4 linked regions of the Homo sapiens genome follow. The protein of the gene in region 4 interacts with the protein of the main gene of each other region in a pairwise test. Each region holds a gene or a part of one and is shown on either strand. Other genes may lie near its edges. The genes, in order: RUSF1, FA2H, SMPD2 and SLC10A1.

Region 1 (7,286 bases), on a different chromosome or scaffold from region 4:
AATGAGGACACTGAGGCCTGGCATGGTTCAGTAAAGAGCATATCCTGTCAGAGTTAAGTCCCTGGCCCAGAGGAGAAACTCAAGAAAATGGAAAACCCATTCCAAGGCCCATGTGTCAACTTAAAATCACGTTAGGGCCGTGTTTCTCCATAAGTACTAGCATTTGGGGTGCAACGGTTCCTTGTGGTAGAGGACATTTAGCTTCCTTGGTTGCAAGCCTAAATGCTACGAGCACCCCTAAACAGGGTAGGAAACCCCAGAGAAAAGCATGGCTGTAGCTATGGACCGAGGGTTGTGCCATCTGGCTTTTGCTTCAAACTCTGCCTTTGAGACTTCAGTCTCTTCATCTGTCCAACAAGGGAATGGAACAGGGCCATGAGCTTCCCTCTTAAGACCCCTCTCTAGAGTTCCCCTCTCCACAACCTCCATCTCCAGCTGCACCAAGAGAAGCCAGCCTGGCTGTCATCTATGCTGCCGCCACCACCACTGCCACCACCTCCTCCTCTTCCCCCTTCCCCTTATCTGTCACCTTCGGCTGAACCTTCAGTTCTGTTATTTTTCCCTCCTCAAAATCTCCAGTCCATTCTCTCCTCCATCTTCCTGTCACCACCTCTCACTGCTGAGAGAGCACCGTTGCTTCCCAGGTAGCCTCCGTGCCGCTCCTCTCTCAGAGCAGCCCAGTGATCCTTTCAAAGAGGAAAGCAATCAGGTCACTCTGCTGCTCCATTGCTCTTAGGGAAAGACCTTCACCAGGCTTGCCAGGCTCCGTGTGGTCAGGTCCCTGCCAGCCACTTCGCCCTCACTTTGTCCCTCGTTCCTCTGGCCTTTGAACAGACTGTTTCCTCTGCCTGCGTATTAACTTGTTTATTTGTTTATTATCTGTTGATCTGTATGCTCCATGAGGGCAGGGCCTGGGTCTGACTTGTATCACAGCACCTAAGTCTATGTCTGGCATCTAAAAGAGCCCTCAGCCAGGGGCGGTGGCTCACGCCTGTAATCCCAGCACTTTGGGAGGTTGGCGTGGGAAGATCTCTTGAGCCCAGGAGTTCCAGGCCCGCCTGGGCAACACAGGGAGACTCTGTCTGTATTCAAAAACTAAGGATAAATAAAAATAGTAATAAGTAAAAGAGCTTTGATGAACTCGGGATGATTGTGAGTGACCAGTGACCCTCCTTGATTAGCTTTATCCTGCGATCTCAGAGGGAGAGATCTGGGTACCCTGGGAGGTCAGGGCCATCAGTGTAGGTTTCGACAGCTTTAACTGGGGCAGGAGGAGAGTAGAGGAATTACAGGAGGCAGATGTAAGCATGAAGCTGGAAACCAGCCTGAGCCTCCCGCCAGTAATGGGGAGGGTATAGCCCAAGCAGGAGCTGGAGGGCTGGGAGTTCTGGGCTGAGAATGATCTTTGGGCCTCCACCTTGGGGAATGAAATTGAGCTTCTGTGAGGCCAGTCCCCAAGGTGATAGTGGCAGGTGGGACTCCAGTTTCCTAGAACAGGACAGGGAAGTTGAGCCTAGGGGGCATCAAGGTGAGAACTAGATGCCAAGGACAGCATTCAGAGTTTGGCCGGGGCCAGGTTTTCTCCAGCTGGTCTGAGTGCCTGTGTTACCAGGACACGTGTCTCTGCCAACCTTCTCTCTTCCCCTCCCACCCAGTGCATCGTGAGTGTTGCTGGTGGGGCCACTCGGGCTGCCCTGACCGTGCACCAGGCTCGGAGGAACAACATGGCTGACGTGTCAGCCAAGGACAGCAGCCAGGTGAGTGCCAGAGCTGGAGGGAGGGCGTGGAGTGGGGAGGGGAAGGGGAGAGAAGCCACTTGAGTGCCCTGGAGGGCCCAGGAACACACAGGAAGAAGTATGGGTGCTCCCTGCTGACTCAAGACACCCAGGCAGGAGTAGGGGTTTGGGCTCTGGTGGCGGCAAGTCCGAGCTGATCTCAGGCCCTGCCCGCCACCTGTGTGGCTGAGAGCAAGCCCTCAGCCTTGCCCTCTTCAGACCCCACCGTGCAAGCTGGATGTTCTGATCACATGAGGCCCCACATGTCAAGGCAATTGGCAAGTCAGAGTTACCCAGCATGTGGGGTTGCTGGGTCACTGGCTGGGGCCTCCACTCAGCAGTTTAGCAGGCCTGCTGGCCCAGCCCCCTTGCCCACCCTAGGGAGCCTGGAGTTGGGGTAGGGACACCCCTAAGGCTGAACTCCGCATGGATTAGACCTCTACAAACCCCGTGCTGAGTGCTTACGTGTACTGCATCACTTAACTCTCACGCCTGTCATCCTAGCACTTTGGGAGGCTGAGGTGGGAGGATCACTTGAGGCCAGGAGTTTGAAACCAGCCTGGGCAACCCGGCGAGACCCCATCTCTACATAATATATAAAAGAAACTTCAGCTAGGTGTGGTGGTGCACACCTGTAGTCCCAGCCTCGAGCTCAGGAGGTGGAGGCTGTGGTGAGCTAAGATCACCCCACTGCACTCCAGCCCAGGTGACAGAGCAAGACCCTGTCTCAAAAACAAACAAACTCTCACACCAACCCTTTGAGGTAGGTACTACTTTATCCCTAGTTTACAGATGAGGAAATTAAGGCCCAGGGAAGTCCCAGAAGTGTGAGATGGTTTTCTTTGACACTGAAGCAATTTAGAAACTGCTGTTCTGTGCATTCCTACTTTCTGGCCTTCTCTTCCATTGTTTGGCTCAATAATCTTAACCCAAGCTAATATTTATTAAGCACTAACCATGTGCCAAGTATTTTGGTTCTGGGAACTCTTTAAATTCTCACAGTGGGCATGTGCAGTAAATGCTCATGGTTGCCTTAGTACAGATGAAGAAATAAAGCATGGAGAGGTCCCATCTCCCTGGGGGCCCCTGGGGAAGTCCCTTCTCTCAGGATGCTCGGGCTTATTCCACCCATTGTCTCTTCTGAACCTAAGTCCACAGGCTGTTAAGGAGCAAGCAGGAAGCACAGCACAGGTCCCTCACCGCAGGACTCCCAGCTCCATGCCTGGTGTCCCTCTCCTGTTCTCTCGCTGGTCCCCAGACCTCCCCCTAACCCCAAGCCATTTTTCCCAAGACCCCAGGGCTTCCTCGGTCCACAGAGCCAGGGACATATCCGGGACTAACCTGGGAATGTGTCAGTCCCGCAGCAGACTCCAGCTTTCTGCCAGTGCAGCTTTGCTGTCACTGGATGTGGCCACTGGAAATGACTCTTCCCACCTGGGAGAGAGGAGCTCCTGAACTCCCCAGGTCCCTGATCCCCAGTTTCCTGCCACACCCACAGCGTTTATTCCCACAGCATATGCCCTTCCCAGGAGGGCTGGTTGAGAAGAGCTCTCCAGTCTCGGGTCCTCTCTATGCCAGGACCAGCTCTCCCTGGGAGCCCAGTAGTCAGGGGCACCAATCCAGACTCCTCCCTCATGATGAGTTGGGGGCAGGTAGCCTGGGGTCCCTTCCCCTAGAGTGATCTCAATCCAGCCATCAGAGTGTTCTCCTAACATTGATACACAAGGGAAGAGGTGTGGGTCTTGTTCCTTTTCTTCCCGGGTGGTTCCTTGACCCCTTTGCAAATCTATCTGCCAGTTACTGCATACCAAAGGAGCTTGGTGGGAGGGGAGCAGTCAACTTTTTAAAATCAGTAAATAAAAGTTATTCCAGCTCATGCCTGTTATCCCAGCACTTTGGGAAGCTGAGGTGGGGATTGCTTGAGCCCAGGAGTTCAAGATCAGCCTGGGCAATATAGCAAGACCCATCTTTACCAAAAAATGCAGTAATAATTAGCAGAGGCGTGGTGGTAGGATCACTTGAGCTCAGGAGTTTGAGGTGGCTGTGAGTTATGATTGCACCACTGCACTCCAGCCTGGGTGACAGAGCGAGACCCTCGCTCTTTAAAAAAAAAAAAAAGTACACATTAGTGAGTGCCTGAGTGTGGGTCTGTTCTGGTGACTTGCAAGACAAGATGTGTTCAAGGGTATTCCGAGGGCACCTACCTGGGCAAAAAAGCAACTGATACACATATGTATTTAGACAGGGTATCACTGTGTCTCCCAGGCTGGAGTACAGTGGTGCAATCATGGCTTAATTTTTTTTTTTTTCTTTTTTGGAGACAGTCTTGCTCTGTTGCCCAGGCTGGAGTGAAGTGGCGTGATCTCAGCTCACTGCAACCTCCACCTCCCAGGCTCAAGCAGTTCAGCCTCCTGAGTAGCTGGGAGTAGAGGCACGCGCCACCATACCTGGCTAGTTTTTTGTATTTTTACAAAAATGCAATGGGTCTCACCGTGTTGCCGAAGCTGGTCTTGAACTCCTGAGCTCAGGGAATCTGCCCACCTCGGCCTCCCAGATTGCTAGGATTACAGGCGCGAGCCACTATGCCCCACCAAATTTTTAATTTTTTTGTAGAAATAGGGTCCCACTATGTTGCCCAAGCTGGTCTCAAGCTCCTGGACTCAAGTGATCTGCCCACCTCAGCCTCCCAAAGTGCTGGTACTACAGGTGTGAGCCACCTCGAGCTGGCATCTTTTAAATGACATTTCACCCACCAAAAACTAAAAATTTACCCACATTGCAGTAAGGAGCCCTGGGAGGTTGTGGAGCAGGGAGGATGAGGTGAAAGGCACTCGGGCACTCAGTCTGGCCTGGAGGGGCACCTTCCAACTCCTTCTCCCTCTGCCATTTTCCAGGAGACGCTGGTGAACCTGGCGGGGCTCTTGGTCAGCCTCCTGATGCTCCCTCTGGTGTCAGGTTGCCCTGGGTAAGCCGGAAGCAGGGTGGGCAGGAGAACCCCAGCTGGGCCTCTGCCCACTTCAGCTACCTCACTCTCTCACCCCAGCTTCAGCCTTGGATGTTTCTTCTTCCTCACTGCCCTCCACATCTACGCCAACTACCGCGCGGTCCGAGCCCTGGTCATGGAGACCTTGAACGAAGGCCGGCTCCGGCTGGTCCTGAAGCACTACCTTCAGAGGGGAGAGGTACTCGACCCAACTGCAGCCAATCGCATGGAGCCGCTGTGGACAGGTGACCCTGCCCCTGGTCTCGGGTCCTGTGTCTCAACCTCTCCCACTGCCTAGGCATCCTGACCCCAGCTTCCCACAGGTTTCTGGCCAGCTCCGTCTCTATCCCTGGGGGTCCCCTTACACCGCTTGGTCTCCAGGTGAGTGGCCTAGCGTCTCCCGCTCGTCACCACCGCCACCCACACTCCCCTCACTCCGATTACACACTGGCCTCCCTGGCAAGGCCCCACCTCTCTGTCCTGGGTTCTTCATTGCTGCTGAACAGACATGGGGTTGGTGTGGGTGTGTGAGGAAGGAAAGGGTGTATAACATGAAGCAGATGTAAGAGATGTGCTTGATGGGTGAAGGAAGGATGGGTAGATGGGGAAGTTGGATGACTGGATACAGGAAGAAAGGATGGATTTGGTGTGTATGGGTAATGGCTGAGGGAGAGAGGAAGCGAGGGGACCTGAGTGAAGCCTGGATCATTTCAGTTCACTGGGTGGCTGTTCAGTGGCTGGTTGGGCATGCCTGCCTTTGCTGTCCTCCACCCCCACTGCACTGTCCTCTCCCCCACAGTGTCTTTGAGCTGCAGCAGCTGGTTGAGGGGCACCAAGAATCCTACCTCCTCTGCTGGGACCAGTCACAAAGTGAGTGTGCCTCATTCTCCCAGCCTAAGACGCACCCTCCCAGGTCAGCCTCTCATTCCTCCAACCTAGGGCCCCGAGCTCTGGGCAGTTTGGAGGCTGCCTGTTCTGGGGGTTGCTCTAGACCGTTCAAATTACAGCTGCAATGCCCCAGTGAAATTCATGTCACCGCTTTGTAAAACAGAGCTAACAGTACCTGCCTTATTCCTTGCGGTGTTTTTATGAGGATCAAATAATGTGACTGCAAAGCTACATTGCAGCACTCTTAGGAAGGCTATGACCTTTGCTGTCCGTGGGAAACCACCCTTCTCTCCATCCTGGGTTGCCTCTTGGGTAAACAAGTCCTTGAGTGTGCTGGTCCGCTGGTTGAGTGTGAAAAGGTGCTTATTCTCACTAGCCATTAAAGAAATGCAAAATAGACCCAGCCCAGTGAGCGGCTGGGAAATTGTATTTGGAAATTGGTCAGTTTGGCCCGAACATTGGGGAGCAACAGGAGATGAATTGGAAAGGAAAGGGTGAGGTGCTAGCCTTCCGTGCCAGGCCAAGGTCTTGGGGCAGACAGGGGAAGCAGGGTGATGGGATAGAAGGGGTTTGGGAGGTGGCCCTTCCCTGATACCAGTCTGTCTCTGGGTCCCTCCAGACCAGGTACAGGTAGTTCTGAACCAGAAGGCAGGCCCCAAGACCATCCTAAGGGCCGCCACACATGGGCTGATGCTTGGGGCCCTGCAGGGAGATGGACCCCTTCCAGCAGAGCTGGAGGAGCTGAGGAACCGGGTGCGGGCAGGTAAGTGCCTCAAGATTTAGACTGCTGATGCCTCAGGGTGGGGAGGAGAGAGGACAAACTCTGTCCTGCTGGAGGACACAGAGCTTCTGGTTCTGCACCCCCGTACCCAGGTCCTAAGAAAGAGAGCTGGGTCGTCGTCAAGGAGACACACGAAGTGTTGGACATGCTGTTCCCAAAGTTCTTGAAAGGTAACATCCCTCAGCCCATGGCTGCTTGGCCCCTGAAGCCTTGTCCCTGGGGGCCCCGCCTTCCCCCACTCCCACCCTTTCACCTGAAAGGTAAAAGACTTGGGTTCTTGGGCCTGGTGCAGAGGCTCACACCTATGATTCTAGTGCCTTGGGAGGCCTAAGTGGGCAGATTGCTTGAGACCCTGCCTGGGCAACATGGCAAATCCTTGTCTGTACAAAAAAAACACAAAAATTAGCCAGGTGTGGTTCTGCTCTTGTGGTTGCAGCTACTCAGGAGGCTGAGGTGGGAGGATCACCTGAACTGGGGGAGGTCGAGGCTACAGTGAGCCATGATTGTACCAGCCTGGGTGACAGAGCAAGACCCTCTCTCAAAAAAAAAAAAAAAAAAAAGACTGTCGGGCACAGTGGCTCACACCTGTAATCCCAGCACTTTGGGAGGCCAAGGCGGGCAGATACTTGAGCTCAGGAGTTCAAGGCCAGCCTGGGCAACATGGTGAAACCCTGTCTCTACCAAAAATATAAAAAAATTAGCTGTGCATGGTGATGCACGCCTGTGGGACTGTCAGGAGGCTGAGATGGGAGGATCACTTGAGCCTAGGAGGCAGAGGTTGCAGTGAGTCCAGATTGTGTCACTGTACCCCAGCCTGGGTGACAGAGACCCCATCTCAAAAAAAAAAAAAAGATGGATT
Region 2 (7,762 bases), on a different chromosome or scaffold from region 4:
AATGTCCTAGCTCTTGAGTTAGGAGGAAGATTCAAGGAGTTAAGGAAACTTTTTGCTTTAAAAATTACATATATGTTTTTGTTTTCATAAAAATATCTTAAAGATTAAATAATTAAAAATAGCAAACTAGTTTTTAGCATGCCATACACACCATTCCTGTTGTTTTCCCCTACAATACTCTGGAGATTATTCTAAATTAGTACACATAGATCTACCTCATTTTTTCTAATGGCTACATAGTATTTCACTGTCTGAATATACCATAGTTTATTTAATCAGTCCTCCCTCATGATGAACATTTGATCATTTCTAGTCTATAAATGAGGTTGCAATTAATGTTATTGTTCATGCATCTTGATATAGTATATCTGTAAGATTAAATTTCTAGAAGTGGAAATAACTAGGGCAAGAACTGTGAGTGTTACAATTCTGAACAGATGGCCAAATCATTTGTTCAACTGTAAACACTGGGAGTTCACAGCCATGGTGAGAAATCCAAATGGGAGTGCCCACAGATACTGTCAGCAAGAAGTGCCTGAGTACACCTGCGACTGTGCGCTTGGCTGCTTTGGCACATGAACGGGATTTGCAGCAGAGTAGGTGTGGAAGTTGGGTAAAGGTGACTACTTATGCATTCACCGCTTGAGAAAAGCAACAACTCTGTTGATGTGAGGCCTCTAGGCCTGACGGACAGGTGCTCCATAGACCCACAGACAGCAAAACTCTCGCCTACTCCCTGAGGGTCAGTCCGAAGAGAAGGGAGAGGGAAGAGGGGCGGCTCTTCTGACCTGGGGACCCCTGAGGCATCTGGGCCAGGCTTCCCATACTTGAACTGGCCCAGCACAGATGCCTGGCCCCAGAAGGGCACAAATGGAGATGATCCTTAAAATATCTTTCCTGAAAGAGACAAAGCCAGCTGGATGGGTTAGCCTCTGTACCAGGAGCATTTGATTACAAATCATGAGTTCAAGTGGGATCCCCTGTGGCTGAGCAAGTAAAGCTGGGTGTGGCTTTTCTGCTTTTTGTTTTCTGTTTAAGAGATGGAGCTCACTCTGTTGCCCAGGCTGGAGTGCAGTGGTGCAGTCATAGGATACTGCAGCCTCAAACTCCTGGACTCAAGAGATCCTTTGGCCTCAGCCTCCCCAGTAGCTGGGACGATAAGCCTGCATCACTACAACTGGCTAATTTTTTAAATTATTTATTTATCCAATTATTTTTGAGATGGAGCCTCGCTCTGTCACACAGGCTGGAGTGCAGTGGTGCAATCTCCACTCACTGCAACATCTGACGCCTGGGTTCAAGCGATTCTCCAGCCTCAGTCTTCTAAGTAGCTGGGACTACAGGGGCATGCCACTGCGCCCGACTAATTTTCTTGTATTTTTAGTAGAGACAGGGTTTCACCATGTTCGCCAGGCTGGTCTCAAACTCCTGACCTCAGGGGATCTGCCTGCCTTGGCCTCCCAAAGTGCTAGGATTACAGGTGTGAGCCACCGCACCTGGCCTCAATTTTTTTTTTTTTTTTTTTTGAGACAGAGTTTCGCTCTTGTTGCCCAGGCTGGAGTGCAATGGCACAATCTCACTGCAACCTCTGCCTCCCGGGTTCAAATGATTCTCCTGCCTCAGCCTTCCTGAGTAGCTGAGATTACAGGCAGGCACCACCATGCCTGGCTAATTTTTTATTTTTAGTAGAGATAGAGTTTCTCCATGTTGGTCAGGCTGGTCTCAAACTCCCGACCTCAGGTGATCCGCCCACCTCGGCCTCCCAAAGTGCTGGGACTACAGGCATGAGCCACCGCGCCCGGCCTGGCCTCAATTTAAAAAAAAAATTTTTTTGTAGAGACGAGGTATTGCTTTGTTGCCCAGGCTGGTCTTGAACTCCTGGGCTCAAGCGATCCTCCTGCCTTGGCCTCCCAAAGGGTTGGGATTACAGGCATGAGCCACCATGTCCAACCAAGTTTTTCCTGTTCTAAACAAAACTGTGATGAACAAATTCAGTCCTCCTTTCCACACAGCATCACCCCCAGCCTTTACTCCTGTAGGCCCCTACTTCCCCTTCTGTAATGGAGACAGTGTTCTCTGTTCTCCCCTCAGGTCCTTCCCCAGGGCCCAGGATTAGAGTGAGGGAGTGAGGCACTAACCCTGAGAGCAAAATCTACAGGCATGCCAAAAAACAAACAAAAAAAAGTAACCAAGATAAATAATATTTTAATGCAGTATTGTAAAACTTCAAGATTAATGCAAAAAAATCCATGATGGACAAAATATCAAAATTTTAAATAAAAACAGGAGCTAACCCTGCACTTTCACATCCCTGTCTCAGGAATCCCTGGCCCTGGTTCCAATAAAACTTTATTTACAAAAACAGGTGGCCAATGCCACGCCCCCAACCCCACCCCTCACCCCTGTCTTTTGACAATGTGATTTTTTAAAACATTCTTAAATATTTTGTATTGCGGTAAAATATACATAATATAAATTTACCATTCCAACCATTTTCAGTGTACAGTTCAGTGGCATTAAGAACATTCACATTGTGCAACAAAATAATTTTTTTTTTGAGACAGAGTCTCTCTTTCTCGCCAGGCTGGAGTGTGGTGGGGCGTTCTCGGCTCACTGCAACCTCCAACTCCCAGATTCAAGCGATTCCCCTGCCTCAGCCTCCCAAGTAGCTAGGACTACAGATGCGTGCCTCCACAGCCAGCTAATTTTTGTATTTTTAGTAGAGATGGGGTTTCACTATGTTGGCCAAGATGGTCTCGATCTCTTGACCTCGTGATTCGCCCACCTCGGCCTCCCAAAGTGCTGGGATTACAGGTGTGAGTTACCGCACCCAGCCAACAATATAATTTTTTAAATATTACGTTCAGGTATTAGATATAGTGATGACTGAGTTTTGGGGTGCCCCATTAAATTTTGCCCTCGAACATTATTAAAAAGTCAAGAAACAGTAGATGTCTGCGTGTATGTAGTGAAAGGGGGATGCTTATGCTATGCACTGCTGGTGGGAATGTAAATTAGTACAACTTGTTTGGAAAACAGTACAGAGATTCTTTAACAAACTAAAAGTACACTTTGGGGCTGGGCGCGGTGGCTCACGCCTGTAATCCCAGCATTTTGGGAGGCTGCGGCGGGAGGATCACTAGAGGCCAGGAGTTCGAGACCAACCTGGCCAACATGGTGAAACCCCGTCTCTACTAAAAATACAAAAAAATTAGCCGGGCGTGGTGGCACGCGCCTATAGTCATAGCTACTCTGGAGGCTGAGGCAGGAGAATCGCTTGAACCCGGGAGGCGGAGGTAGCAGTGAGCTGAGATTGTGCCACTGCACTTCAGCCTGGGCAACAGAGTGAGACTCTGTCTCAAAAAAAAAAAAAAAAAGTGCACTATGGGAGGCCATGGCAGGCAAATCGCTTGAGCCCAGGAGTTTGAGACCATCCTGGGCAGCATGGTGAAACCTCGTCTCTACAAAAAATACAAAAATTAGCCAGGCGTAGTGGTGCATGCCTGTAGTGCCAGCTACTTGGGAGGCTGAGGTAAGAGGATTGCTTGAGCCCGGGAGGTCGAGGCTGCAGTGAACCAAGATCGCACCACTACTCTCCAGCCTGGGTGACAGAGTGAGACCTTGTCACGGGAAGGGAAGGGAAAGGAAGGGAAGGGGAGGGGAGGGGAGGGGAGGAGAGAAAAAGTAGATTCACCATTCGGTCCAGCAATCCCACCACTGGGTATCTACCCAAAGGAAAAGAGTCATTATATGAAAAAGACACTTGCACACGAATGTTTGTTTTTTGCAGCCCAATTCACAATCGAAAAGATATGGAACCAACTTAAATAACCATCAACCAATGAGTGGATAAAGAAAATGTAGTTGATATACACGATAGAATACTACTCAGCCATAAAAAGGAACGAAATGAAGTCTTTTGCAGCAACTTGCATGGAGCTGGAGGCCATTATTCTAAGTGAAAGTGATTCAGGAATGGAAAACCAAACACTGTATGTTCTCACTCATAAGTAGGAACTAAGCTATGAGGACGCAAAGGCATACAGAGTGATATAATGGACAATAGGGAGAATGGGAGGGGGTGTAACACACACACACACACAAAACCCTACACATTGGGTATAATGTACACTACTCGGGGGACAGGTGGACTAAAATCTCAGGACTTACCACTATACAATTCCTCCATGTAACCAAAAACCACTGGTACCCCAAAAGCTACTGAAATTTTAAAAACAAACAAATATTTGCACCCGAGGCGAGCACCTCATTCGCCTCTCGCTCTCTCGGGCACCTCCTGGAGCCAGAGGGTCCCATGCGGCCAGCTCCTCCGTGGAAGCAGTTGAAGTTATTCCAGCAGCGATCAGGCCACCGAGGATGTCCGCCCAGACAACCACCCGCGACGGGGAGACTCGCTCCGCCTGTGTCCGCCCACCCTCCTCCCGCGCGGGACACACCTGGCGGGCGCGGCACTCCCTGTCCGCGGCCACCTGGCGCGCAGCTCCCGGCGCCGGGCCCGCCCCTCGCGGCTCTGCCGGGGCTCCCGGCCGGCCAATGGGAGCGCGGTATGCAAATGAGCAGGTGCGGTGGCGGCCCGCCCGGAACGGCCGCGGGGCTCCCGGGATGTTAGAGGCGCTCAGGGTGGCAGCAGAGCAGACGCCGGGCTGCGCGCTGGGAGCTGCGGTCTCCGGCCATGGCCCCCGCTCCGCCCCCCGCCGCCTCCTTCTCGCCCTCCGAGGTCCAGCGGCGCCTGGCGGCCGGCGCGTGCTGGGTCCGCCGCGGGGCCCGCCTCTACGACCTCTCCAGCTTCGTGCGGCACCACCCGGGGGGCGAGCAGCTGCTGCGGGCCAGGGCGGGCCAGGACATCAGCGCCGACCTGGACGGGCCGCCGCACAGGCACTCGGCCAACGCGCGCCGCTGGCTGGAGCAGTACTACGTGGGAGAGCTCCGCGGGGAGCAGCAGGTACAGCCGGGCCGGGGCCCCCCACCCCAACCCAGGCCTCCGTCAGCCTTCCACTCCCGGGCGAGCCCCGTTCACTTGCCCTCTAGCAGGACCCAAGGTGACAGCTTCTGCCCTCCCTTCCCTCGCTTTCCCTCTCTTCTCTCCAGGCAACAGGTCACTGTCGTCCCCTCCAACCCCTCCTTCCTCTCTCCAGGAACTTGCTCTTCCTTTCCACCCTTACCGCCTGGCCCGCCTCCGTGCCAGCTCTCCCATTTCCCCAGCACCCCTCCTTCCAGCGTGTTCCTTCTGCAGCCCCTGCCCTCCGACAACCTGGATTCCCGTTTCTGTCCCCAGCCCCCCATACGCCTCGGCTTTCCTTCCTCTTCACTTATCGGCCTCTCCCTCTTTGCAACCACTCTCCGTTTCTGTTTGGATAATGGGCTCAACCTGTTCCCACCTCCCCATCCCACCTCACTTCTGCTTCAAAGAGGCACAGATCAGTAACTCTTCTCACTAGCTTGGGTTTCCTGGTGCCGCCCTGGCCTTGCCTGGGCCATGTCTGGGGTGGACTGTGTCCTCCAACCTCTCAGACCTTCCCTTATATTCTTGTCCTACACGCTGGCTTGGGACTCCAAAAGAGTGAAATGAAAGGCATGAGCCAGTTTTGCCAAGGAAAAGGGACCAGCACTTTGGACCAGACTGTGTGCTGAGCTGCACGCTTCTGTGCAGTACCAGCTCCCGATGGTATTTAAGTCCTTAACTCAACCTGGGGCAGGTTTTGTTATTCCCATTTCAGGATATGGAATCTGAGGCTCAGGGAGGCTCTGATTAATGCGCCTAAGGTCAAATAGCTAAATAGTGGGAAAGCCACATGTATCTGACTCCAAAATCAATGCTGGCTCCATCCCAAAAGTCTTCGGGTGGAGGAGACAGACCTAGTCCACAGGATTCCAGGTAGGCTCAGGCCAGAGGCAAAGCGACTCTCTTGATGTTCCCCAGGCCTGGCTCTGGGACTGGTATGGGGCCATCATGCTTAGATATACAGTAGTTCCCCCTTGTCCAAGGGGATACATTTCAAGACCCTCAGTGGATCCTTAAAACCACAGATAGTACCGAATCCTATATATGCTATGTTTTTTCCCATATATGCATATCTATGATAAAGTTAAATTTATAAATTAAGAACAATAGGAAGAGATTAACAACAACAATAATAGAATAGTTACAACAATATACTGTAATAAGAGCTATTTGTATGTGGTCCCTTTCTCTCAAAACATCTTATAGTACTGTACTCACTCTTCTTGTGATAATGTAAGATGATAACATGAGGCCAGGCAAAGTGGCTGACATCTGTAATCCTAGCACTTTGGGAGGCCGAGGTAAGAGGATCGCTCGAGCCCAGGAGTTCAAGACCAGCCTGGGCAACATAGGGAGACCTTGTGTCTACAAAAAATACCAAAATTAGCCGGGTGTGGTGGCATGTGGCTATAATTCTAGCTACTTGGGAGGCTAAGGTGGGAGGATCACCTGAGAGGTGGAGGCTGCAGTGAGCCATGATCATGCCACTGCACTCCAGCCTGAGCAACAGAGTGAGAGCTCACCTCAAAAAAAAAAAGATAATAAGATGCCTACATGATGGGTTGGAGTGAGGTGAATGACAGGTGTGGTGATGTGGCATTGGCTACTATTGAAAAGTAATTTAAAACTTATAAATTATTTCTGGAATTTTCCATTTAATTATGTTTTTGGACCCAGGTTGACCGTGGGTTACTGAAACCATGGAAAGTGAAACCGTGGATAAGGGGGACTCCTGAAAACCAACAATTGTCCCCTGCTTCTAACTCTTGCTTTCAAGATGAGCCCAGCAACTACTCTTAGATCTTTGGTTGAAAGGACTTAGCACCCACTGTTTCAGGTGGCTTTTCATTGGGTCATCCTGCCTAATTTCTCCATCATTTATTCAGTCATGGAACTGGTTCCTTAATGGGTTGACAGCACTGTGCTGGGTGTGGGGAGATATCAATGAACAAAACGAATTCGGTTCCTGTCTTCATGGAGCTAATGGGATAATGGGGAAGGAGAGGGAACACACAGATCACATGATAGTTGCTTAATTAATGGTGTATCAGAGTACGGATCTAGAGGGGAGGAGCATAGAGAGCCTTCTTGAGAAAGCGACATTGACACTGAGAGCTGATTGATAGGCTGGGCTTAGCCAGGTGGCATGTAGCAGGAAGAATATTTTGGGCAAAGGGAACAGCACGTGTGAAGGCTCTGGCAGGAAGAGCTTGACATAGTAAAAGACTGCAAATAAAACCAACGTGGCCAGAGGCTGATGGGCAAAGACAGGGATGTGGGGGGAGGCCAAAAGTCGGCCGGGGCCACATCACACGGGGCTTCGTAGGCTGTGGTCAGGATTTGGGACTTGACTCTAACAAAAATGGGAAGCCAGGTGAGCCCGGGAGGTGGAGGTTGCAGTGAGCCAAGATCACGCCACTGCACTTCAGCCTGGGCAATAGAGCAAGACTCCATCTTAAAAAAAAAAAAAAAAGGAAGCCAGGGAAGAGGTTCAGGCAGGGTTCATGGTCAGATTTGCATCTTTAGAAGAGGACGCTGGCTGCAGTTTCAAGGAGGAACAGAGACAGCCTAAGTGGGTGTGAGGAGATCAGGCAGGATGCTGCTGCATGGCTGCCACTGCAGTGGCTGTGACCATGGGGGGAAGGGGGATGAATTCGGGAGAGTCTCTAGACAATATGCTGGGACTCAGCATTGTGTGGTGAGGGCCCAGTTTAATCTGAGAGGTTGGTGTTTGGTGTC
Region 3 (8,182 bases), on a different chromosome or scaffold from region 4:
CCTGGGCCCTATATAAGCCATTGACCTCCTGTACGTGGAAGAGGTAGAATGCACCTGCCCACAGCACCAGCCCTACACTGGGGGTCCAGAGCAGTATGGCAGCTTCCCCGGCCCCTCCTCCAGCCGCCAGGACACACAGCAGTGCCAGGAGAAGCAGCCCCAGGCCAATCACATAGCTAGCGAAGGTGGCCCACCAGCGAGCCTGAGCCATGCCCAGACCCAGCTCCGTCCAGGCCTCCTTTAGCACACACATCAACGGCGACCTCTCTGCTGGTCCTACAACAGAGCAGGGCAGTGGGGCAGGAGAGAGTCAAGAGTGGAAGGGCTGCTTCAAGCGGGGCAAGGGCCAAGGAAAGGGTGGGGGTGACTCACCGTGGGTAGAGCTGGGGTTCTGCTGTGGGGGGCTGTGCCTCACAAACAGAGTAGCCATCAGGGCTTCATGATCAGAGAGGGGGGTGCCCCTGTGAGGGTCAAAGCCTGTAGTGGTTTCAAAACTCTTACAGGAGATGTAAAACCCAGAAACTGCCTAGGAAAAGTAAGGGCCAGAGAGAAGCTTATATATGAGGGCCTCTTCCCAGAGAACCAGCTCCCGGCTACCCCACTTTCCACCCATCAGTGGTCCAAGACTAGACTAGCTGAGCAAAGGATCTACACAGGTTAGTAGACAAAGAGACACAGCATATGAAAGCATGTTGAAGGGAGGAGCCTGACCTTGTAAAGCACGTAGTCAATGCGGACACCAAAGGGAAATGGCTTCAGCTCCTGCTGGCTGACGTAGCAGTTCTTGGGTACCATTGTGTTGCCTTCCTCAGAGCCCTAAGGGAATCATTGGCTCATGCTAGGATGTGGGGGAGAAGGAGGGAGAGAAGCTGGGGATATAGGTGGGGAAGTAACAGGCAAGTCCTCACCTTGAAGTCCCGAGTTTCAAGATAGGCATCATGAAGCCCTGTCCACTCCTTCAGCAGGCAGCAGCCCAGGTCTTCTGGGTGCATGTTGAGGTCTCCACACAACAGAACCACGTCTGCCTTCTTGGATGTGTGGCTGGGGGAACCAGGTTGGTGAGGCGGGAGTTCTTCCATCACCAGCTCTTCCCCATGACTGGGGCCTTGTTCACCCTCAGCCCCTGGGTCCCATCCCACTTCCCATTTCAAGCCCAGGCTCACACACTGGATGAACTGGGCCAATTCCCAAGCTTGGGCCACACGATGTGCTAGGTAGATGTCCTTCTGTCGATTGTATTCGGCATGGAGCTGAGCAAGATAGATGAGATCACAGCAGATAAGACTGAGGGTCCCAGGGGTATGTCTGAATCAAGCCTGTGTCTGTCACTTGGCATGGTGTTTGGTATACAATGGATAAGCCTTGCCCATTGCTTCCTTATAAGATCTTGCCCCCACACCTCATCCCCAGGTATGAGAGCTAGAGAAGTACCATCTCTCTGTCCCAGGACTGGGCTGCATGTCCCAGCCCTAGGCACTGCCAGCTTCACTCACATGGGTCACATAGGCGTTGAGCACCATGCCACTTAGATGGAGCACCAGCAGCCCCACAGCCTTCCCACTGAACCAGTCACCATGATGGATCTGCAGGCAGGAGGAGATAGAAACTCAGGGCACCGCCACCATCTTTCTGCCCATCCCCTGCAGCTCTCAGAGGGCTGCCTCCTCTACCTTGTATTACTGGAGGTGGGGAAGGGAGGTGGAAGAGGTCAAAGGTCTGCCTTACCATGTAGGGGTAGCCATTGAGAGTGTAGATGTGCTGGGTAAGCTCCTGGATTGGATGTTTGGAGAAGACACAGAGGCCACTGCCAATGATTCCGCTGAAAGCCAAGCCCTGCTTAATAACCAGAAAAACAGGGAGAGACACCCAGCCTTCTTCCCCTCCCTTGTCTTCCAGCTCTGATCAGCTATTTTTTTCTTTTTCTACTGCTGGGACTAGCCCTAGAACCAAGGCGACAGCCTTTGGAGGAGTATAGGGCAGCCAGAAAACAAAGCTGAAATGGGCTGAAGTCATAGGACCTTCTTGGTTCACCCTTCTCCTTCTCTCACATCCAGAGGGAGAGGAGGCTGGAGGAGACTGGAGAGTGCAGGCAGGATAGGGAAGGGCTGGCAGGGCCAAGAGCCTCCTGGGATGACAACAGGCTTCAGGCCAGTGGGCTTCTCACCTCCGGAAGTGGTGTGCAGCTGGGTAGGTAGGTGACAGCTTCTGTCTCAGGTACTGGAAGTCCTGCTCACTCCACACCTGAGGGAAGCGGTGAGGATGCCTGCTTGGTCTTTCCCCAGTGGGACGGTCTGTCCCTCCTCCCAGCCTGGGTTCCGCACCGTGCTGCACAATCTCACCTCCTCCAGCAAAGCCAGGTCGAAGCTCTCCTGGTTCAGAAAGTCTCCCAGGCGCCTCATGCGGTCGGCCCGGTGCTTGCTCAAGTACGGAATGCCCCTAAGGAAGGGAAGAGCGGGGCAGGGGAGGCGACTGCTGGGACCACCGGCGCTGGGGCCAGATGTGGACTTTGGAGGTTCGGGTTTTCCCTACACCCTGAGATCGTGGGGCGGGATAGGGGGAGGAAGGCTGCATGGGTGCGAACGGAAGGTGGCCCCCAGACCGCACTCCGCAGACGCACTCACCAGCAGTTGAGGTTGAAGATCCGCAGTCGCAGGGAGAAGTTGGGCTTCATGGTTGGGGAGCTCCAGGGGCGCTAGGCGGCTCGAACTCTCCAGCGACGGCCGCGGTGGGGACGGGGGCGGCCGGCGGCGCCTTCTCCCCAGACCGTTCCTTCTTCGCAGGCGGCGCGCACAGGTGGGCACCAAGCCCGCGTGGCTCAGGTCGGGCCCGACTCCCGCGTTCCCCCGGCAACCGGCCGGCTGTTCCCAATCAGGCGGGCCGCCAACCCGGAAAGGCGATCCGCTGCCGAAATCCGGGCGCCCAGGCTCGGTAAGGGCCGCGCGCTAGGACCCTGGGGGTCCGGAGAGCGCCCCCGGGTGGGCGGCTCCCGGTTCCTTTTCCTCCAAGCTCGTCCCCGGCGGTCGCGGCCGCCCGCGCGCCGGCGGCCCAGCAACAGGCGCAAAGTTGAGGAAAGGCCCAGCCGCCACGGGCCGCCCTCGACCCGCCCCTGGGCCCCGCCTCCTGCGAGCGGCGGAGGCGGGGCCGCGCGGTTGCCGGAGCGACGCGCAGTGTTTGGGGTCACCGGGCGTCCCCGGGCGCGGCCATGGCAAGGCCGCAGCCGTGCGGGCCCCCGCACGCTAGGTGCGGCTCGCCGTCGCTGCCGGAGCGGCCGCTGCAGGTGAAGGTGGTGGGGCTCTTCAGCTGCCCCAACTTTCAGATTGCGAAGAGCGCCGCTGAGGTAACCACAGAGAAACCTCCGTCGTGGGCGGCCCTCCCCGCTACCCGCTCTCGGCCGCGTGGACTGCAGGCGCCGCGCCTCCTCGAGGCGGCGGGGGTCGAGGCCCCACCGGCCGAGGAAGGGGCTGGCGTGTCCTGGCCGGGCGGGCTCCGTCTGGAGGACCGGGAGGAGAGTATAGGGGGGCAAGTGCGGGTCCGGGGGCGGGCGTTCCACTTGGCGACTTTTAAAGGGAGAACTGAGCGAAGGAAGGGTTCAGAACCGCGCTGGGAGATAAGGTAATCCCCTCCGAGACACACACACACACACCCGCAGATTTTGTTCTACGTCAATTTTTTCTTTAATTAGAGATATTTAAATTTATGGAAAAATGATTACTATATAACTAGCTAATTTTTACAACCCCGCCACCTCGGCCCAAGCGATTTTTGTTAACTATTCATGCGGGGAGATTCTTTTCTTTGAATTTTATAGAGCCGTCACTGCGTTCCAATCGAACTAGATGCTTCACAAGTGCTTTGGAAAATCATTTCTTTGTAAACACTCAGAACGATACTAAAGGAAAAGCACTTGAGGAAACTGGAAGAATTTGGCCAGATCAGTCATGCTGCAGCACACTTACAACCTGAAATGCAGGAGAAATGTATGAAATGTCGGCATGTAGAATTCAGCCCTTCTTACAGGGTTTGCTCCAGAAATGCTGTCCATGGCAAACTTCTCGCCGAAGCTCACTTGACTCCAGGACCATGCCTTAATTAATGTTTTTAACTCCCGAAGTACCCAGCTGGATACTTGACAACAAAATGTTCCCAAATAGAAGATATCTTGGCGCGGTGACTCACGCCTATAATCTCAGCACTTTGGGAGGCAGAGGCGGAGTTCTAGACCAGCCTGGCCAACATGGTGAAACCCCGTTTCTACTAAAAATACAAAAAATTAGCCGGGCGTGGTGGCGGTCTCTGTAATCCCAGCTACTCAGGAGGCTGAGGCACAAGAATCGCTTGAACCCGGGAGGCGGAGTTTGCAGAGAGCTGAGATCGCGCCATTGCCCTCCAGCCTGGGCGACAGAGCCAGACCCCGTCTCAAAATAAATAAATAATAAAAAGAAAACAAGTGATCAGAAGTCTGTGAAAATAATACATGAATCATCAAAAGTAGAAATTGTGGTCTGTGTTGCTTGGGCAGACGGGATCAGCAACCTTTTATTACCAAAGTTAATGGCCATGAAGTTAATTACAAAGTTAATGTATTAATGAGTTTCAGAGATTTTTTTTCTCTTTTTTTTCGCTCTTTTTCTGAAGGCACATATTTTCTGTGCCGACTCCACATTGTAAAGAAAGTGTTGACAAGTTTTTTTCTGTAAAGTCCAGATAGTAAATATGTTAGGCCTTCTTGGCAATAGGGTCTCAGTCACACCTGTTTAGCTTTTTCCTGTGTTGCAAAAGCAGACACAGAGATGGAAATGAATGACAGTATTCCAGTAAAACCATATTATGGACACGAAATTTGACTTGCGTATAATTTTCACATAACGTGAAATACAATTCTTTTGATTTTTTAGAATTGTTTACAGGCCGAGCGCGGTGGCTCTTGCCTATAATCCCAGCACTTTGGGAGGCTGAGGCGGGCAGATCACGAAATCGGGAGTTCAAGACCAGCCTGGCCAACATGGTGAAACCCCATCTCTACTAAAAATACAAAAATTATCCAGGCATGGTGGCGGGCGCCTGTAATCCCAGCTACTCGGGAAGCTGAGGCTGGAGAATCGCTTGAACCCGGGAGGTGGAGGTTTCGGTGAGCTGAGATCGTGCCACTGTGCTCCAGCCTGGGCAACAAGAGTGAGACTCTGTCTTAAAAAAAAAAACAAAAAACTGTTTACAAATCTAAAAATTATTCCTCTCCAACCCCTGATGTAGAAGACAGTAGGTCGAGAAAACAATATCTTTATTGTATTAATAATGTCAATTTTCCCTTTCTTAAACTTTTACCTACTGTAGTTATATTCAAATATGAAAATTCAGCTAGTTTTTTTTTTCTTTTTTTGGAAGAGATGGGGGTCTCACTGTGTTGCCTAGGCTGGTCTTGAACTCCTGGGCTCAAGCAATCCTCCTCGACCTCCCGAAGTGCTGGGATTATAGGCATGGGCCACGGTGATGCCCAGCCTCTAGTTCTGTCTTAATAAAGGATATCTGAATGTATTCCTAACATGATAATTTGTGAGCGATCCCAGATGCCTGATTAACTGACAAAGATTTAGATTTGTGTTGAATGTTCCCAACACAAAGAAATAATAAATGTTTGAGATGATGGATATGCTAATGATAAGTATACATTATATGTATTGAGACATCACTACCCCATAAATATGTGCAATTATTATATGTCAATTGAAAAATAAAAAACAAAATGTAAAAACCAAACACACAAAAGATTGAAATTTGTAGAGAATAGGAACAAATATTGCATACATTTTCATTTGGATATAGTCCGTTCTACAACAAATACTAAATTACTAAAAAGACATGTGTTTCATTTGAAAACTGCTGGATTTATAGTTTATTCCAGATGGTTAGAAATAGCAGTCAACCGGGCCAGGTGCGGTGGCTCACGCCTGTAATCCCAGCACTTCGGGAGGCTGAGGCAGGCAGATCGCCTAAGGTCAGGAGTTCAAGACCAGCCTGGCCAAGACCAGCCTGGCCAACATGGTGAAACCTCGTCTCTGCTAAAAATGCAAAAATTAGCTGGGCGTGGTGGCGGGTGCCTGTAATCCCAGCTACTTGGGAGGCTGAGGTAGGAGAATTGCTTGAACCCAGGAGACGGAGGTTGCAGTGAGCTGAGGTCACACCGCTGCACTCCATCCTGGGCAACAGAGCGAGACTCCGTCTCAAAAAAAAAAAAAAAAAAAAAAAAGAAAAGAAATAGTAGTCAACCTGCAGTATTGCCTCAAACTGAGCACAGACACTGGAACTGAGAAACAAGATGCGTCAGCTATTGCTTGGGGACAGAAGGAAATGGCCTAATTATTGTTGCCCTCTTCATGAGTATTCCCAAAGTAGGCCACACTCACATCCTGGTTTTCTCCCCTTGGAATACTCACCCCTGATGACCTGTGCTAGGCCAGCACCCTCTTTTGGACCATGACAGGACCTCCAAGCACTGTCCCTAGCAGGGAAGTGCCACCTGCAGCAGCTGTCACTTTTCCCTTTGGTCCATCTACTTCCCAAACCCACTCAGAAAAGAGGCCTGTTACTGCTTCACCTGTGTTCTCTTGCTTTAGAGGGAGACAAAGTATAACGAATATCAAGAACCAAGCCTGGATTGCTAACCAATAAGAATTTTCTCTGATTCCTGCAGACAATCTATGTCAAACTAGAACATATTCCGTATCTAAACCTAAACTGATTTCGTACTTCTCTTTTTCCTAAGGGGTATAACCACAACGTTATTATCTTTTTGGTCATCCCCCATTCATCAGTGAATTAAAGCAAGAACATTTATTTATTTATTTTAGTTATAAGTAAAGTATCTGTAGATCCACCGAGGTTTAGCAAGAGTTGTACTTAGGGAAAAACTAGTCTTAAAGAACATAGCATATCACAAAGCTATTGGCGTTAACCCATTTATGTATTCCTCTCTTTATTCAGCTGCTGTGTGCCAGAGATTGTGGCAGGTGGGAATATAGGAATACTAAGACAGAGTTTTTTTTGTTTTGTTTTGTTTTTTTGTTTTTTGTTTTTTGAAATAGAGTCCCACTCTGTCACCCAGGCTGGAGTGCAGTGGCGTGATCTCTGCTCACTGCAACCTCTGCCTCCCAGGTTCAAGTGATTCTCTTGCCTCAGCCTCCCAAGTAGCTGGGATTACAGGCACACACCCACCATGCCTGGCTAATTTTTTTGTATTTTTAGTAGAGACACGTTTTTGCCATGTTGGCCAGGCTGGTCTCAATCTCCTGACCTCAGGTGATCTGCCCACCTCAGCCTCCCAAAGTGCTGAGATTACAGGTGTGAGCCACTGCGCCCAGCCTCTAAGACATAGTTCTTGGCTTCGAGGCACTTATACAAATAAGCTCCCTGGACTGGGGAGCAACTTGGAGGTGAACACAAGGGCCTCTGACAGCGAGCAAGGAATATCTCAGTCGGACTGCATGGCCTGGGCTTGTGTTGTATAAAACTTCTGGAAACCCCGTAAAAATTGGGGAACATGATTTTGACTTTAAAAGAGAACTAACTCTAAAATAATTATTCTATTTCGAAATCCAGAATCTGAAGAATAATCATCCATCCAAATTTGAAGATCCTATATTAGTTCCTCTTCAAGAATTTGCATGGCATCAATATCTACAGGAGAAAAAAAGGGTAAAGGATATTTGGGGTGTGGGGGATATAGACAACAAGCCAAGTTTTGCCTGAATTATTTATGCATTGTTTTGGAAAAACTGAAAGAGTAATTTTAGTGTAACTAGATTTTATTTCTCTACATTACGTACTTTTCCTAAATTGTATTAATCATTTACCAAGCTAGGTGTTTTGTTTTTGAGACAGGGTCTCACTCTGTTACCCAGGCTGGAGTGCAGTGGGGCGATCTTGGCTCACTGCAGCTTCAACCTCCTGGATTCAAGCAGTCCTCCTACCTCAGCCCCGCAAGTAGCTGGGATTACAGGCACACGCCACCACACCTAGCTAGTTTTTGTATTTTTTTAACAGATGGGGTTTCACCATGTTGCCCAGGGTAGTCTCAAACTCCTGAGCTCAAGTGATCCACCCACCTCGGCCTCCCAAAGTGCTGGGATTACAGGCGTGAGTCACTGAGCTCGGCCACCAAGCTGTTTTTTGTTCTTGTTTTTGTTTT
Region 4 (8,043 bases):
GCAATCATAGCTCACTGCAGCCCTGACCTCTCAAACTCCTAGGCTCAAGCGATCCTCTTGCCTCAGCCTTTTAAGTAGCTGGGGATATAGGTGCCTGCCACCACACCTCGCTAATTTTTTATTCTGTGTAGAGACTAGGTCTTATTATGTTGCCCAGGCTGGTCTGGAACTCCTGGACTCAAGCAATCCTCCTGCCTCAGCCTCCCAAAGTGCTGGGATTACAGGCATGAGCCACCATGTCCAGCCTCTACAGCCACATTTATACCATAAGTCACTACCATATTTTTTAATGGCTACATTCTTTTAAATGGGCCATAACCAATCACCTACTAATAGATATTTAGGTTATTTCCAATAGTTCACTATTACAAAGCAATGCTGCAGTGAAAATCTCTTTACGTAGATCCTCAAGCAATTATCTCTATAGGATAATTTTCTACAAGTAGAATTCTACTGTCAAGAGCAATGGCTGACTGAAGGCTTTTTATGCCACTTCAGAATCTGGGAAAATAGCTGACTTTTGCCAGAGATGAAATTAAAATGTCCCTTAAGTAAAATTTACACAGCCACCACTACCCCCCCATGATTGTTTGGATGTTGTGTTTGTTGTGTTGCTTGCTACATCCAGCCTGTGAAAGAACAAGTCTAGGCCAGTTTGGAAAAAATATGCAATCACAGGATCTTTTCCAGTCAAAGCTTTCAGGTCTCAAAAAGCAGGCTAACTCGGGAGACAGGATGAGGCAAAAGAAGGAGCAGGTCAGAAGAGCAGCTGGGGCCCGGAACCAGGCTGGGCATGAATACCAATTGTACCACTCACTAGCCATGCAAATTGGGCAGATTATTTAACCACTCTAAGCCTTTTCCTAACCTATAAAATAAGGATAGCAATAGCATCTTATCTCATAAGGCTATTGTGAAGACTAAATAAAAACGTGGGCATTTAGTGCTATACATTTCCCTCTTAACACTGCCTTAGCTGTATCCCAGAGATTCTGGTATGCTGTATCTTTGTTCTCATTAGTTTCAAATAACTTATTGATTTCTCCCTTAATTTATTTGCCCAAAAGTCATTCACGAGGAGGCTGTTTAATTTCCATGTAAATGTATGGTTTTGAGCAATTTTCTTTGTACTCAATTCTATTTTTATTGCTTTGTTGTCCAAGGGTGTGATTGGTATAATTTTATTTTTGTTTTTTGCATTGGCTATGAATTGCTTTATGTCCAATTCTTTGGTTGATTTTAGTGAATGTGCCATGTGGCAATGAGAAGAATGTATATTCTGTTGTTTTGGGGTGGAGAGTTCTATAGATGTCTACTAGGTCCATTCAGTCAAGTGTTGAGTTCAGGTCCTGAGTATCTTTGCTTTGATGATTCGTCTTGCCTTGATGATCTGTCTAATACTGTCAGTGGGGTGTTGAAGTCTCCCTCTGTTATTGTGTGGGAGTCTAAGTCTCTTCATGGGTCTCTCAGAACTTGCTTTATGCATTCACCCCCTCTGGAGGATGCAGCAACAAGGCATTATCTGCAGAGAGCAGCCCTCATCAGATACTGAATCTGCCAGCACCTTGATCTTAGACTTTCCAGCCTCCAGAATTATAAAAAATAAATTTCAATTATTTATTTTTTAAAAAGAACTTGCTTTATGAATCTGGGTACTCCTGCGGTTGGTGCATCTATATTTAGGACAGTTAGGCCTTTTTGTTGATTTGAACCCTTCACCATGATGTAATGCCCTTCTTTGTCTTTTTTCATCTTTGTTGGCTTATAGTCTGCTTCGTCTAAAATTAGGATTGCAACCCCTGCTTTTTTCTGATTTCCATTTGCTTGGTAGATTTTTCTCCATCCCTTTATTTTAAGCCTATGGGTGTCATTGCATGTTAAATGGGTCTCTTGAAGACAGCATGCTGTTCGGCCTTGCTTCTTTATCCAGCTTGCCACTCTGTGCCTTTTATTTGGGGCATTTAGCCCATTTACATTCAAGGTAAAGGGAACACTTATACACTGCTGGTGGGAGGGTAAATTAGTTAAACCATTGTGGAAAATAGTGTGGCAATTTTTCAAAGAACTAAAAACAGAACTACCATTCAACTCAGCAATCTCATTACTGGGTATATACCCAAAGGAATATAAGTCATTCTACCATAAAGACACATGCACACGTGTGTTCATTGCAGCACTATTCACAATAGCAAAGACATAGAATCAACCTAAATGCCCATCAACAGTAGGCTGGATAAAGAAAATGTGGTACATATACATCATGGAATCTATACAGCCGTAAAAAAGAATGAGATCATGTTCTCTGCAGGAACACAGATGGAGCTGGAGGCCAATATTCTTAGCAAACTAATGCAGGAACAGAAAACCAAATACTGCATGTTCCCACTGATAAGTGGGAGTTAAATAATGAGAACTAATGGGCACGAAGAAGGGAACAACAGACACTGGGGCCTACTTGAGGGAGGAGGGTGGAAGAAGGGAGAGAATCAGGAAAAATAACTATCAGAACTATCAGGTACTATGTTTAGTACCTGGGTGACAAAGTGGTCCGTGCACCAAACCCCCATAACACAAGTTTGTCTGTAACAACAAACCTGTACATGTACCCCTAAATCTAAAATAAAAGTTAAAAAGAAATGTAATTTAAATCACAGCATCCATCACACAGCATGTGCTCAACAACTCTCAGGTATCATTAACATAACACAAAAAGATCTTCCTGTTTCCAAAATTGTATTAAATTAGAGTAGATTCTGAGGGGATATGGGGAAAAGAATGGAGGGTGTCAGGTTCCTGGAAGAGATTTTTCCATTCTCTGCAAAGTCACATTGCTAGGAACAGAGGGAATGGGAAGGAGTGGGAGGAGGGGCAGCCAGGGCAAGAAACTGTTTTCTCAAAGGGAAAAACTCACAGTAGGAGGTGGAAGGATTTTGGGTTCCTGAGAAGAGGTGAGGAGGAAGAGTTGATAGAGACTACGTGGTTTAGAATCCAGGTTACAAATGTGTTCATAGGAACTCTTCTTCTCTTTGGATGTGCACAATAGACACATGCCCAGACCCTGATCTTTAACAGATATTGGTCAATTCCTCCTCACCCTTTGGCATCAGGCAAATGTGTAAAAACCTAACGTCTCCCTTTGACTTCAAGGCCTCATGTACGGTTGCACAAGACATCTGTAGAGTGGCGTCCCTAGCATTGTGTAGTGCCCAACCTGAACAGGTGTACCTGGCAGCCCTGCATGGCCTCCACCCTCACGTGCTTCCATATTGCATTGTGTACCATCTGGCCATCTGTGGTCTTGTACAGACCATCAGGTCCCTGAGAACAGGAACATGAATTATATAGTTTTTTTTATTTATTTATTTTTATTTTTTTTGCCTCCCATGGTGCCTGGTACTCAGTTAGTGATCAATAATTCTCCCCTAGCAACTCTGTTCCCTTCTGATTAGCCCCAGGGAGAGGAAGCAGCCTCCTCTGAGACTCAACCCTACCCTGTGGGAACGCTCAGTCCAGGCATCACATCCAGTGCCCAGTCCTCTGCCTGCCCTCCCTTTGATACCAGCCCAACTCAAGCACCAGGAAATCATTAGCAGAGACTCTCAAAGGAAAAGAGGCTTCAAGTTCATGTCACCCAGGGCCACAGTATACGGCCCCGCAGGCTGCCCACCGCGCAAGCCCAGGGAGCAGCCTTTTCATGGATATGATGCAATATGTATGGATCCTGCCATCCAACCCTTATCCAAGCAGGATTCCAGAGGCCTCAAGGCCATTCTTGGAGAGCTCTCATTTTCAGGTGGTTCCTTGCACCAAGCCAAAATCTGTCCCCACCTCCACCCAACAGTGGTTCACACCCTGGTCCCTATTCTGCCCTCTGGAGTCCTACATACAAAGCCTAATCACCTGTTTCAGACCCCACCCAGGCCTCCTAGGTTCCAACCAAGCCAAGAAGCAATTGTGTTTCTGAAGGAGACCCCTCCTCCCTTGTCCCACCTCTGCAGTGGGGATAGATGGAAAGAGCAAGGCCTAGGATAACCTCACACACTAGGTGGCCCCGCCCCTGGCATGCCCACCTCTCTCTGCTTCTGCTCCACGCCCCAAGCCTGGCTCCCAGCCTGAAACACACAGGCCCAGTGCAAAAGTAAAGCAATCAGGAAGTCAGGAAGAAAAGACTGCATTCCTGCTTCCTTCTCAGCAAGTTTTGCAAGCAATGGGCCTCCTCGGGCACAAAGCAATCTCCACAGCCAGGGTTCTCTCAGGTTGCTTTTCGGGGAAAGAGCCTCCAAGCTTCCTGAGAGCCCACCCACCATCCCAGCTGGTTATTCCCTCTGATGGTAAGCATTCCAGGTAGTGTGGAGCAGCCACCACCAGTATTCCTCCCTGGGACTCATACAGTCCCAGTTTGGGGATAAAACAAACATTTCCCCAGAACAGGCAGGGAGGATACTGGCATCCTCTCAGCTCCCAGGAAAAGGGTCATGGACACATCCCCTCCTGGAGGCCAGTGACATTGCCTGTCCCACACCCCCTTGGACTATGCTACCTGTATCTAGGAACCAAAGGCAACACCCAGCTCCTTTCACTCTCATGGGTTCTGGGGACAAATGATAACCCACTGGACATGGGGAGGGCACCTTCCCCCAACCAAGAAACTAAGGAATCAAGAGCGGAGCTGGGAAAAGGAGCTGCAGGGAAGGAGATGGGCTGGACCTAGATTCAGGTGGGCCCTGGGCAGGTCCCCAGTAACTGAATGAATGCCCATGAGGCACACTCAGTGGAGGGCAAAGGGGAGAAATAAGCCCAGAAGCAGCAAAGTGACAAGGGAGGAGTACAAGTAGCACCCAGGAATCCAGCAGAGGTCAGGGAGCTTGGGAGAGCTAGGGCAGGCAGATAAGGTTCTGGGCTGTTCCTCTTTGGGGCGACAGCCAGAGAAATAGCTCAGATAGTTGCATAACCCTTCTATTTGCCCAGAGCTTTTGTCCAGAAACTCTCTGTCCTGAGAGGTGATTAAAGAAGGCATCCAGCAAGAACTGCACAAGAAACGGAGTCAGCCGGAGAACAAGGAGTGGTCTTCCACTGCCTCACAGGAGGATGGAGGCCCACAACGCGTCTGCCCCATTCAACTTCACCCTGCCACCCAACTTTGGCAAGCGCCCCACAGACCTGGCACTGAGCGTCATCCTGGTGTTCATGTTGTTCTTCATCATGCTCTCGCTGGGCTGCACCATGGAGTTCAGCAAGATCAAGGCTCACTTATGGAAGCCTAAAGGGCTGGCCATCGCCCTGGTGGCACAGTATGGCATCATGCCCCTCACGGCCTTTGTGCTGGGCAAGGTCTTCCGGCTGAAGAACATTGAGGCACTGGCCATCTTGGTCTGTGGCTGCTCACCTGGAGGGAACCTGTCCAATGTCTTCAGTCTGGCCATGAAGGGGGACATGAACCTCAGGTAGGCCTGGGGGTGAGGAGGGAACAGCCTGGGACAGGAGCTACATTAGATATGTCACAATTGAGGGGAAGAGCTGGGCTAAAGCCAGGAAAAGGAGTGAATGCAGGCTGGGTGGAGGCTAGGGCAGGGGAAGTCTGGCATTTATTGCCAAGAGCTTATGCTGGGATGGGGGCAGGAGTTGGGGTACGTCTGGTTTAGGCACCAAGCCAAAGGGACCATACTGGTCCAGGAAGCTCGTGGTGATCTCCTTGCTTCCAGAGGTGTCTCAAGGATTGTCTTAAAGGAGCACTGATTAAAGCCAAAGGAACCTCTGGAGAACTGCATCCACCTACAACAGTGGACAAGTTGCCTGCTTTGAGCCCAGAGATTTAAAAGGTAGTGTGATTCGTTCCAAACATCATCAGGGAGATCAAGGTGACTTGGAACCAAATGAGCACCTCAAATTCCTGCAAAGCGGGCAAGAATTTCCAAAAGGTCCTCCCAATTACCTGGTCATCTAAGATGTTTTCTCTTTAAAGTCCCTCATTCCCCATCAGATGCAATGACATTTCCATGCAAAGGCACAACCAGGGAGATCCTAGAGTTTCCCAGCACCCACTCCAGATAGGCCAGCCCCATCTCAGCCACCCTGATAAGGGGAAGACAGCAGCACCCCCTAACCCCCTGCCCAAAGCATTATAAGCAGAAATCAGCAAGGGCTCGCTCCTGGAGACGCAGCACACAGGGGCTGGTTGATGCTCATCCTTCCAAACTGGGGAGACTCTAGTCTTGAACATCTGCCAGAGGAGCTACTTCAGACCTGCTCCAGCTCCAGCAGCCTGTGCTGAAGCTAAAGAAAACTCACTAGCAGAAGCTCTTGCTTTCAGTGAAACCTCAGTCTCAAGCCAGTCCCCCCTGGTTTAGTCCTCCGTGGAGACGCTATTCAATGCCAGGTATAGCAGCAGAACCCAGAAAGTCCATCTGCTTGTGTCTGTCAGCACCCTACTCCTAGCCAAACTTTCCTAGGAAAACTAACCCAGTCAAGAAGCCCCTCCTAGTGATGCAAAATGACACTGGGACAGATTTTTTAAATGAAAAAAGTGAGAATGGCTGGGCACGGTGGCTCACACCTATAATCCCAGCACTTTGGGAGGCCAAGGCAGGAAGATCACTTGAGACCAGGAGTTTAAGACCAACCTGGGCAACATAGCAAAACCCTGTGTCTACAAATATATACATATATATTTAATTAGCCAGGCATAGTGGCACATGCCTGTAGTCCCAGCTACTTGGGAGGCTGAGATGAGAGGATCTTTGAGCCTACGAGTTCAAGGCTACAGTGAGTCATGATCACACCACTGCACTCCAGCCTGGGCAACAGAGTGAGACCCTGTCTCTCTCTCAAAAAAAAAAAAAAAAAGGAAATAAAAAAGTGAGAGTGAATGAGAGTTGGGGTTTAACAGGATCTGCCATCTGAGAAGCTCTGGGCTCTTTTTCCATATGATTCAGCCCTCACTTTAGTAGTCAATGGGAAGAGAGGCACAAAGAGGGCATTTGGCTTGTGCCATCACCCACGGAAAGGTATTTCAATGTTCAACTACCTCACTGTGAGAAAATGCTTTCCTCTGTCTAATCCACATCCTCTCTGCTACAAAGCAAGCCCTTGGTCTTGGATCTGGCTTCTGGACAAGGCTCATGGCAGCCTGTGTGTCCCAAGAATCCTAGAGTATATCTGAATTTTGGTGTATGAGGGATGCAGAAGTCAGGGGCCTGCGAAGGGGTACTCTGAGGGCTTTGTGTTTCTGTGGAAGAAGCAGAGCAGGGGACGTGGAAGGCAACTGTGCTTTTAAGTGTGAGTGGCCAGATGTCCCAGCCCCATCGCCAGTGGCCACTATTGAGGCCTCTGCCACAATGCCTACATTGCTGTGGCTCTAGGCCCCACCCAGGCAGAGCCTCTGGTGACTCAAGAACATGACCCCTCATGCTCTCCTGCTCAACCTCCTTGTCCAGACCCCTGATGACTGTCATTTTTACCTAGACCCCCACAAGAGATAAGCTCTGCTGGGACAGCCACCTTCTGCCATAAAACTCCTTCCCAACAAACAACCCTCCCATGCACATTAAACCATGTCTCAGATCCCACTGTCGGAATGGGAATCTGGTCATCTACCTTCATGTGCTGCCAGACTTCAAATCCCATTCCAATTTGGGACAACTTGTTACATGCATTATAATAATGACAACGATTATAAGAAACAGCCAGGCACAGTGCTAAACACCTTACCTGGATAAGTATATGTGATCCTCCTACAGCACCCTGGGGGACAGCATGTAACAAGTAGCATTTAGAGGTAAGGAAACTGAATCTTAGAGAGGTCAATACATTGGCTCCAGGTCTGGGTGGCTCCGGAACCTGTGCTTTTACTGAAATATCTTCCAGGTCAGCATTTCCACAAACAAAATGGCCAGACAGCCTCAAAGGCATGGGCAGACACCCGTGTCTCAGCAGCAAGTATTGTGTGGGAGCCAGAGCTTCCCACTTTTCAAAAGAAGGTAAAATATCCATTTTATGTGAAATCAGCAACTCATTCCATTTTTTTAAATGTGCAAACCAAACAAT

Evidence for each region.
Region 1: the proteins of SLC10A1 (region 4) and RUSF1 interact in binary tests that used the Homo sapiens proteins (3 or more experiments, as listed by UniProt).
Region 2: the proteins of SLC10A1 (region 4) and FA2H interact in binary tests that used the Homo sapiens proteins (3 or more experiments, as listed by UniProt).
Region 3: the proteins of SLC10A1 (region 4) and SMPD2 interact in binary tests that used the Homo sapiens proteins (3 or more experiments, as listed by UniProt).

What each region holds. Positions count from the first base shown.
Region 1 is NC_000016.10:31,491,320-31,498,605, reverse strand, and holds part of RUSF1 (RUS family member 1), read left to right. Parts: intron 1-1,655; coding exon 1,656-1,757; intron 1,758-4,669; coding exon 4,670-4,740; intron 4,741-4,818; coding exon 4,819-5,003; intron 5,004-5,081; coding exon 5,082-5,139; intron 5,140-5,557; coding exon 5,558-5,628; intron 5,629-6,265; coding exon 6,266-6,409; intron 6,410-6,519; coding exon 6,520-6,597; intron 6,598-7,286.
Region 2 is NC_000016.10:74,771,687-74,779,448, reverse strand, and holds the start of FA2H (fatty acid 2-hydroxylase), read left to right. Parts: upstream 1-4,628; 5' UTR 4,629-4,693; coding exon 4,694-4,963; intron 4,964-7,762. UniProt on the Homo sapiens protein: Catalyzes the hydroxylation of free fatty acids at the C-2 position to produce 2-hydroxy fatty acids, which are building blocks of sphingolipids and glycosphingolipids common in neural tissue and epidermis.
Region 3 is NC_000006.12:109,435,611-109,443,792, reverse strand, and holds the start of SMPD2 (sphingomyelin phosphodiesterase 2), read right to left. Parts: upstream 3,070-8,182; 5' UTR 2,672-3,069; coding exon 2,622-2,671; intron 2,437-2,621; coding exon 2,340-2,436; intron 2,242-2,339; coding exon 2,165-2,241; intron 1,834-2,164; exon of another isoform or gene 1,820-1,833; coding exon 1,726-1,819; intron 1,584-1,725; coding exon 1,494-1,583; intron 1,251-1,493; coding exon 1,168-1,250; intron 1,042-1,167; coding exon 909-1,041; intron 817-908; coding exon 712-816; intron 527-711; coding exon 373-526; intron 277-372; coding exon 1-276. Other genes in the region: PPIL6 (probable inactive peptidyl-prolyl cis-trans isomerase-like 6), read left to right, coding at 3,203-3,337, 7,594-7,689. UniProt on the Homo sapiens protein: Catalyzes, at least in vitro, the hydrolysis of sphingomyelin to form ceramide and phosphocholine. Also hydrolyzes 1-O-alkyl-2-lyso-sn-glycero-3-phosphocholine (lyso-platelet-activating factor) in vivo.
Region 4 is NC_000014.9:69,794,201-69,802,243, reverse strand, and holds the start of SLC10A1 (hepatic sodium/bile acid cotransporter), read left to right. Parts: upstream 1-5,002; 5' UTR 5,003-5,088; coding exon 5,089-5,444; intron 5,445-8,043. UniProt on the Homo sapiens protein: As a major transporter of conjugated bile salts from plasma into the hepatocyte, it plays a key role in the enterohepatic circulation of bile salts necessary for the solubilization and absorption of dietary fat and fat-soluble vitamins.